2 separate regions of the Homo sapiens genome follow, and region 2 is linked to region 1. The links come from fine-mapping of genetic effects on gene expression. Tissue or cell type: monocytes after LPS. Region 1 holds a variant in brackets; the other region holds the start of a gene. All regions are shown on one strand. Distances are between the middles of the regions.

Region 1 (4,386 bases):
TGCCTGCCCCGCCCTCCTTGGCATCCTGGACTCGTGGCTTCTCTGCCCATTTCCTATGGCACCCAGCAGGAGGCTGGGCAGAAGATAGTGTCTGTGGGACACCTGCCCTTGCCCTGGTCACAGTGCCATCCAGGAGTCCCCATACTTGCAAAGTATGTTTGCACTGTGTGAAAAACTTAAAGCAGAAACATAAGAACAAAAGTGGACACTTCTCAAAAGAATAAAATGTTTGCATAAAAGGCAGAAAGACAGGGATGTCAACAGTGGTTCTCTAGGTCACGATGGCGGGAGCAGCATTCCTGCTGACAAGCACTCCTGCCCCGCGCAGCCACGCTGGGCTGCCGCCGCCTGTCAGCCTGTCTACAGGAGGCTGCAGAGCGGCCGTAAATGCCTTTGAAATAGCATCACAGTTATTTGTTAGGTCATCTCCTAGGGAGATGATACACAGTTTTCAATCCCAGTGAGTCTTTCTACCGCTTGTAAAATAAAATTAAATTACAATGATTCAACTGTTGAACAAGCTTATAGAGTCATAAAAGAACTATGATTTTCTATCTCACCCTTCCGTCTGGCAATCAAAGATCACACGTAGAACTTCTACACATGACCAAGGACCAGTACTGGGGCCTCCTTCCCACCTGAAACAAGGCAGGACTTCACTGCGAGGGGCTCTGAAAAGGAGATGCTGCAGGGTGCCACCCCTGAGTCCCACAGTTAGGGTCCTTTGTAGCCCAATGTCCCCAAGTCCCTCCAGCATGCCTGGGACTGAATGGTCCTGAGCGGCTGGGGTAATTTTCCTGAGGAGGTGGCACGTCATCTAACACACATGGGACAGAACCATGGCCCCCTGGTATGCTTCTTGGTGGTGGCAGTGGGGCAGGGACTCTATCTTAGCTCAAAGCCAGGGCTCTCATTACATGGGTGGGGAGCTGTGTGGCTCCAGAATCAATTACCTTCCCAGACCAGGCGCGGTGGCTCATACCTATAATCCCAACACTTTGGGAGGCCTAGGCAGGAGGATTGCTTGAAGCTAGACGTTTGAGACCAGCTTGGGCAACATAGCAAGACCCCATCTCTACCAAAAAAAAAATTTTTTTTTTTTGAGACAAAGTCTCGCTCTTGTTGCCCAGGCTGCCCAGGCTGGGGTATAATGGCGTGATCTTGGTTCACTGCAACCTCCGCCTTCCAGGTTCAAGCAATTCTCCTGCCTCAGCCTCCCAAGTAGCTGGGATTACAGGCACCCACCACCATGCCCAGCTAATTTTTGTATTTTTAGTAGAGATGGGGTTTCACCATGTTGGCCAGGCTGGTCTCGAACTCCTGGCCTCGGGTGATCCGCCTGCCTCGACCTCCCAAAGTGCTGGGATTACAGGAGTGAGCCACCATGGCTGGCCTACAAAAATTTTTTTTTTACAAAATTAGCCAGGCATGTTAGTGTATACCTGTCATCTCACCTACTCAGGAGGCTGGGATGGGAGGATCGCTTGAGCCTGGAGGTCAAGGCTGTGGTGATTGCACCACTGCATTCCAGCCTGGGTAACAGAGTGAGACCCTGTCTCAAAACAAACAAACAAAAGTAACAACTAAACAAAAGAGAATAAAGTACTTGCTCAGGAGGATAGAGAAGGGCTAGGGGAGAGGGCAGAAAAGGTTTGTACAACTTAGAGGGCATGAACAGCAGCAGCACCTTGTTTTTTTTGACCAAACAAGAAAAGGCCCCCAGAGCTCACGCACAGCTATCATCAGGGCCGGTGCCATGGCCTGGCTCCTCGGGTGACACTTCCCCATCTGACACATGGCACGAGGGCTCAGCTGCCCGCCCAACCCTTCCAGCACTTCCCAGCTGCAGATCTAGGAGCTGGAAGGCAGGCCTGCTCAGCAGGCCACCTACTCACCAGAGCAGTGGGTGTCATAGAACTCATCTCAGTGGCAATGTGGCCAGAGAACATGCCCTGGCTAAAACAGATTTCAGCAGCACGTTATTAAAATAAAGCACAATGGGCCAGGCGCAGTGGCTCACACGTGTCATTCCCGCACTTTGGGAGGCCAAGGCAGGAGGACAG[A/C]TTGAGGCCAGGAGTTCAAGACCAGCCTGAGCAACATAGCAAGACCTCATCTCAACAAAAAAGAAAAAAATTAGCTGGGCCTGACAGTGCACACCTGAGGTCCCAGCTACTCAGGAGGCTGAAGCAGAAGGATCTCAAACATGTTTGAGGCTGCCGTGAGCTATGATTGCACCACTGTACTCCAGCATGGGCAACAGAGTGAGACCCTAGCTCTAAAAAAAAAAAAAAATTAAAAAATAAAGCAAAATGTTATCAATGGATTAAACTATGAGACCATTTATTTCTTCCCTGCCCTGCAGCGTTCAGTGGGCTTACGCACCTCCGGCTGCCACCATGGGCTGCCCTGCAGGGAAGGCCTGTGTGAGGCAGACCTTTCAGGCCAGAGGAGGCTACACCACGGGCTCCCGCAGATTCTAGCAGGTGGGGGCATGAGACTTCAGGTCATAGGAGCAGACATCGCAGCCGTCCAGCAGGTCTGCCTGAGAGACGCCATTGAGGCTGGGGGCAACCAGAGCTCTGGGGTTGTCCTGCACGCCTGTCCTCGTGAGTGTGTCCTGGAGAAGTTCTCGGATTCTTCGGTTTTCCCTGAAGGTAGATTCCCAAATAACTTCAAGTTCACCTTCCATTTCTCTGAGGGAAATAAGTTTAAAATGGCACAATTTTAAAAATAATATAGAGCCCATATGAATCCCAAAGTAGCAAGAACTCAAAACAGAAGAACGCTATCAGCAGGGAACAGAGCCCTCGGTGCCTGGGTTCTGAAGCAAGCGCTCAGTGTGGAATGAAGCAGCTGGTGCCCTGGGAATGGGGAGCAGCAGGACAGCCCAGGCTGGGGCTCAGTGTGGAATGAAGCGGCCAGTGCCCTGGGAATGGGGAGCAGCAGGACGGCACAGGCATTTCTCTTCCCTCTATGTTCTGCCCTTGACTTTGGCGCCAGTGCAATCCCTGTTTTCTCTCAAGAATGAACTTGGGCGTGTCGAATAAGGAACTGCAGGAACTGCAGGGCTGGCCTTGGCCAGCCAGACGCTCTAGCACGATGGCCTGGCCACAGGCACCCACACAGCCCCTCCTGTGTCCCGTCTGCTTGTCCACTGTGACCTGGCCAGCACTCAGTGACCTTCCACAGGTCTTCCGCTCCATACAGCCCAGAGCTAAGAGCGAGTCAGGGGGTGAGGTGGGGGACCTGAGGAGATAAGACTCATTGCCAAGATGGAGAAGATTGGCCTGGCCCATGTGCCGGGATGGGGAGGCCCTGAGGGGCCGAGGCATGTGAGGTTGGAAAGAGCCACAGGGCAGCGTTTCCAGAACCAGGATGCAGTGCCCTGTGGTGTGCTGGGGAGACAGGACAGATGAAGGTGGCCACATCCTCACAGGGCCACAGTCCACTGGGAATAGACCAGGACACGAGCCACACCTCACAAGGTGCTTAGCCCCATCGGGGAGCATGGCCAGGCTGGAGAGGCCAGCTCCTTCCCGGACACTGCCAGATGGTTCTGGAAAATGTTGGAAACTGGATTTGCAGGTGGACTTCGCACCACGGTTTAAAGAGCAGGACACTGAAGTTCAGGGAGGCCAGTGATGTGCCCACTTGGCCAGAGTCACTTTTCTTGTGAACGTTCCTTCCTTCCAAGGCCCCTGATGCCCACTGTGTGGTAAGAACAACTTAATTAAACTATGTCTAAAAAAGCCCCAGCCTGGGCAACATGTGAGACCTCATCTCTACAAAAAACTTAAAAATTAGCTGGGCCCACGTGGTGGCATGCACCTGTATTTCCAGCTACTCGGGAGGCTGAGGCAGAAGGATGACTTGAGCCCAGAAATTTGAGGCTGCAGTGAGCTGAGATTGTGCCACTGTACTTTAGCCCAGGCAACAGAGCAAGACCTTGTATTTAAAAAAAAAAAAAAAAAAAAAATTCCCCAGACTTTGGTTTTCTGAAGATATTTGGTAAATTATAGCAATCATGTTTAAATGTATGGCTGAACTCGAAAGAACAGGCAGTCTCTAAGGGCAGAAAAAATGAAGCCTAAACTGAAACCAAAGAGGCAGACAAAGTATCAGTTGCTTTGAGGACAAAAGTCAATGCCAAACCCTGGATGTTTGTAGACTGAGAGATCGTGCAGATCAAGAGTGACAGAAAATCTCAGGACCCACTCTTGTCCAAGTTTCTCTTCCTACTAGAGGCACTGTGAAGGTAGGTAAGTGGAGGATGTGAAGGACCCTCAAAGAAAGGAGGGGTGGGTGGGAGACCTGCAGATCTTCAAAGGAAACCTGTTCTGAAAGGCCAGGCATCACCTGGGGACTAGAGCCACCGGCCTGCTCTCA
Region 2 (4,386 bases), 93 kb after region 1:
GGGATGGCCGATGGTGCAGGCTACAGAGATGCCCTCGTCCTGTGCCTGGGGGGGCAGCCACAGCTGCACCTGGGAGCTCCCACCCCGCCAACTTGGAAGAGGCAGGGCTCCCACTTGTCCCTGGCTCCTGCCTGCGCGGCTGCAGCTGCATCTGGAAGGGCAAATTCTGCCTGTTCCCGGCTCCCCCAGGAGCAGAGAGGCTCGGATCCACAGCTGCAGTTTGGGTGGCTGTAGCCCTGCCCAAGAGGGTGGGGCTCCTGCCTGCTCCATAGAGCAGAAGGCCTGGGTCTGCAGCAGCGGTTTGCGGCTCCAGTCCCAACTCATGAGGGACGGGGCTTCCACCGGCTCCATGAAGTGTGCAGCCCTAGCCACACAGCGTGATGGCAGCAGCCACTGCCATCACAAGGACCCAAATTCATTTCTTGCTTCCCCTCCTCTTCCTGCGCAGAGTCCCTGTGCTTCAGCACTCAGCGTGGGCTTCCATTTCCCAAACAGCAAATAATTCATTCTTTTTTAGGCCTTGGTATTTGCTGTCTTCTGCACCCAGAATTCTTTCCTTACTCCCTGCCAGGCCCAGGCCAACTCTCCAGGCTGACGTCACTGCCCTTCTGGTACACACATCAACAGCAGTTCTTGTTTTACCATTGTGTACAGAATTATTTATGGGCTTGTCTATCCTACAGACCGTGTGGCCATAAGCTGTCAGTTGTGGGTATCAGCACACAGCAGGGACTCATTAATGTTTGGGGCTTTAAATAAAAACTCAAGCCAGATGCAGTGGCTCACACCTGTAATCCCAACACTCTGGAGGCCAAGGTGAGAGGATTGCTTGAGCCAAGGTTTAAGACCAGCCTGGGCAGCATACCCAGACCCCATCTCTACCAAAAAAAAAAAATTATGTTTTTTTGAGGCAGAGTCTAGCTTTGTCGCCCAGGCTGGAGTGCAGTGGCACAATCTTGGCTCACTGCAACCTCTGCCTCTCGGGTTTAAGCGATTATCCCACCTCAACCTCCCGTGTAGCTGGGATTACAGGTGCCCACCACCACGCCCGCTAATTTTTGTATTTTTAGTAGAGATGGGTTTTCACCATGTTGGCCAGGCTAATCTTGAACTCCTGACCTCAAATGATCCGCCTGCCTCAGCCTCCCAAAGTGCTGGATTACAGGTGAGAGCCACCTCACGTGGCCTCTACAAAATAATTTTTAAAATTAGCCAGGCATTGAGACTTGGCAGAGTGTGAGGCAAAAAATAAAATAAATAAAAAATACCTAGGTGTGGTGGTGCACACCTGTAGTCCCAGCTACTCAGGAGCCTGAGGCAGGAGGATCACTTGAACCCAAGAGGTTGAAGCCACAGTGAGCTATGATCATGCCACTGTACTCCAGCCTGGGCATCAGGACAAGACCCTGTCTCTAAAACTAAATTAAATAATAAATAAATATAAGAATCCCCTTGGCTGCTACGTGGAGAATGGACCTAGGGGAAGGGCGAGAGTGGAAGCAGAGAAACCAGTGAGGATCTGCCGCAGCAGTCCAGACAGATGCTGGAGGCCGGGGTGTGGGTGGAGATGGGAACAGCTGGCAGATGTATGTAGTGGGTATATCGGATGGGACTTGCTGATGGGGTGTACATGGTGGGTGGAGGAGGGAAAAATGAAGAATGGCTATATCCAGCAGTGCAGCAGGTGTACGTCGTCCAGGAGTTAACTCCGGGCACGGGGACGAATGCTACAGGGGAGGCAGGGTGCTCCTGTCCAACTGTGGCCGACCCTGGGGCAGAAGATTGTTAACGCCGGGCACAGTGGCTCACGCCTGTGATACCAACACTTTAGGAGGCTAAGGAGCTCAAGACCACCATAGGAACATAGCAAGATCCCTGTTTCCACAAAAATATTGAACAATTAGCCGGGAGTAGTGGCGCGCGCCTGTAGTCTCAGCTCCTCGGGAGGCTGGGGTGGGAAGATCGCTTGAGCCCAGGAGTTCGAGGATGCAGTGAGCTATGATCGCACCACTGCACTCTAGCCTGGGCGACAGAGCGAGACCCTGTTTCTTAAAAAAAAAAAAAAAAGTTTAGAACACGAAAAATCAAGGCTTCCTCAACTGAAAACCACTTTCTCTTGTGCCGCCCCCTTGACTGGATCTCAGGCCAAACCCCAACCCGCCCCAACACTTTACCCCTAATTCCCGGCCCCACAGAGCCCCACGCGCGGCGGGCGAGCATCTACTTACGAAATGACTCCTGCGGCCTCTCCGAAATCCCAGGAGCATCCTTGCAGCGCGAGGAGAATGGACCGGGGCCTGGACTCATCAGCAGATCTATCCACAGCCAGGGACCACTCCCTAAAGCCCGCCGCAGGCCCAGCCCTCACGCTTTCTCTTCGCAATGGACTTTGCAGCAACCACGTCGGCCATTGGCTCAGCTCGGCCCTCGACCAATCAGAGCTAAGGTTACTTCCACACCGGTCGTTCTTGGCAACCAGTGGGTACCGTTCAAATCCCCGCCAGGGCGGAAACGTCCGCCCTTATCCGTTCTCTTATTGGTCAGGTTAGACGTCCATTTCTGACGCCACAGCCTATCCGGCGCTGCGGGAGGCGGAGGGCGGGCTGGATGAAGGACTGGGCGAGCACCGAGGGCGTGAACCCGGAAGGTGGCGCGGCCACCAGTAACATGATCTCTAGACTGGGACGGTGGGGTTCCTGCCGGCTGTATTCGGGCCTTGGACTGGACTGAGAAGCTACGGTGCGGATCCAGCTGGGGTATCAGGGGCTAGGCACGTGATGAAAATGAAGGACGCGGACACCAGGACAGGAATCTCCTGGTTCTTAGAGAATTTATTTCGCCACAAATAATTGGCAAACGGGATCTCGCTGTATTGCTCAGGCTGGTCTCGAACTCCTGGGCACAAGCGATCCTCACGCCTCAGCCTTGCCCAATGTTGGGATTACAGACGTGAGCTACCATGCCCAGCCCAGGATTCTTTTAAAACTTAAATCTGATCGTGCCTCTGGCCTTATTGGAATCCAATGCCATTACCACCTCCACCACCACACATCCCGTCTCCAGCCACCCTGGCCTTCATTCAGGCCTTTGTGTTTTCTTTTTCTTTTCTTTTTTTTTTTTTTTTTTGAGACGAGTCTTGCTCTGTCGCCCAGGCTGGAGTGCAGTGGCGCGATCTCGGCTCACTGCAACCTCCGCCTTCCGGATTCAAGCAATTCTCTGCCTCAGCCTCCCAAGTGGCTGGGATTACAGGTGCCCACCACCAAGCCCGGCTAATTTTTTTGTATTTTTAGTAGAGACGCGGTTTCACTATCTTGGCCAGGCTGGTCTTGAACTCCTGACCTTGTGATCCACCCGCCTCGCTCGGCCTCCCAAAGTGCTGGGATTACAGGTGTGAGCCACCGCGCCCAGCCTGTGTTTTCTTATTAGTAATTATAAAGGGAATCTTATTTGACAGTTCTTTGACAAATAATTCAGTTTGCAGAGGGGATCCTGCCCCAGAGGCCCTGGCTTGGAGTGGAATGCAGGGCCGTGTGCAGGAGAGCCTGCTCAAGTGCCGCCTGGCTTTTCCCTCCTTAGGTGGAGACCATCCATGGAAAAGAACCCCCCTGATGATACGGGCCCCGTGCACGTGCCTTTGGGGCATATTGTGGCCAATGAGAAATGGCGCGGGTCACAGCTGGCGCAGGAGATGCAAGGTCGGTGGCCTGCCCTCTGCCAGCCCTTTCCTCCCCTGACATATTAAAAAAAAAAAATCTGCCTATTATTGCCATCTTTTCATCCAAAGCTTATGGAACTCATTTTCTTCTCTGTATTTTAAGGGAAAATTAAGCTCATTTTCGAGGATGGCTTGACACCAGACTTTTATCTGTCGAACAGATGCTGCATTCTTTATGTCACCGAAGCTGATTTGGTGGCAGGAAATGGCTACAGAAAGAGGCTTGTTCGGGTTAGAAATGTAAGTATTAGGCTGGGTGCTGTGGCTCACGCCAGTAATCCCAGCACTTTGGGAGGCCAAGGCGGGTGGATCACCTGAGGTCAGTAGTTGGAGACCAGCCTGGCCAACATGGTGAAACCCTGTCTCTGCTAAAAATACAAAAATTAGCTGAGTATGGTGGCGCACGCCTGTAATCCCAGCTACTAGGGAGGCTGAGACGGGAGAATTGCTTGAGCCTGGGAGGCAGAGGCTGTAGTGAGCCGAGATCACGCCACTGCACTCCAGCCTGGGCGACAGAGTGAGATTCCAACTCAAAAAACAAAAAACAAAAACAAAAAAGAAATGTAAGCATTGGATTAAAGAAACTCGAACATTGATTTGTCTCACCCCACCCTTCCCTCCATCCCTTGGTATCATTTATTTAAAATCATTGGCCAGGTCAGGCACGAAGT

Which allele goes with the higher level. Alleles are on the strand shown, and positions count from the first base shown. SD is a standard deviation of normalised expression in the study named.
In carriers of allele A in region 1, the expression in monocytes after LPS of the gene that starts at base 2,351 in region 2 tends to be higher than with C alone (small effect, 0.40 SD a copy in Fairfax 2014).

The links. PIP is the estimated chance that this variant, and not a neighbour inherited with it, causes the effect. A credible set is the group of variants that fine-mapping cannot tell apart.
Region 2: it holds the start of CEP89, and the variant in region 1 is the best candidate, but not a certain one, in a credible set for the expression of CEP89 in monocytes after LPS (Fairfax 2014, PIP 0.77).

Annotation. Positions count from the first base shown.
Region 1 is chr19:32,876,686-32,881,071 of GRCh38, forward strand. It overlaps CEP89 (centrosomal protein 89), which reads right to left. Exons shown (of 19, transcript NM_032816.5): 19 at 1-2,693. The coding sequence ends at 2,477. Among named protein-coding and RNA genes, the nearest start is that of SLC7A9, 9.1 kb to the left of the region's middle. The variant A/C (reference allele first, on the strand shown) is at 2,064.
Region 2 is chr19:32,969,608-32,973,993 of GRCh38, forward strand. CEP89 (centrosomal protein 89) reads right to left here and starts at 2,351. Exons shown (of 19, transcript NM_032816.5): 1 at 2,229-2,351. The coding sequence starts at 2,267. FAAP24 (FA core complex associated protein 24) reads left to right here and starts at 2,635. Exons shown (of 5, transcript NM_152266.5): 1 at 2,635-2,739; 2 at 3,577-3,695; 3 at 3,819-3,955. The coding sequence starts at 3,590. RefSeq lists enhancers at 2,159-2,378, 2,759-2,808 and a silencer at 2,489-2,618.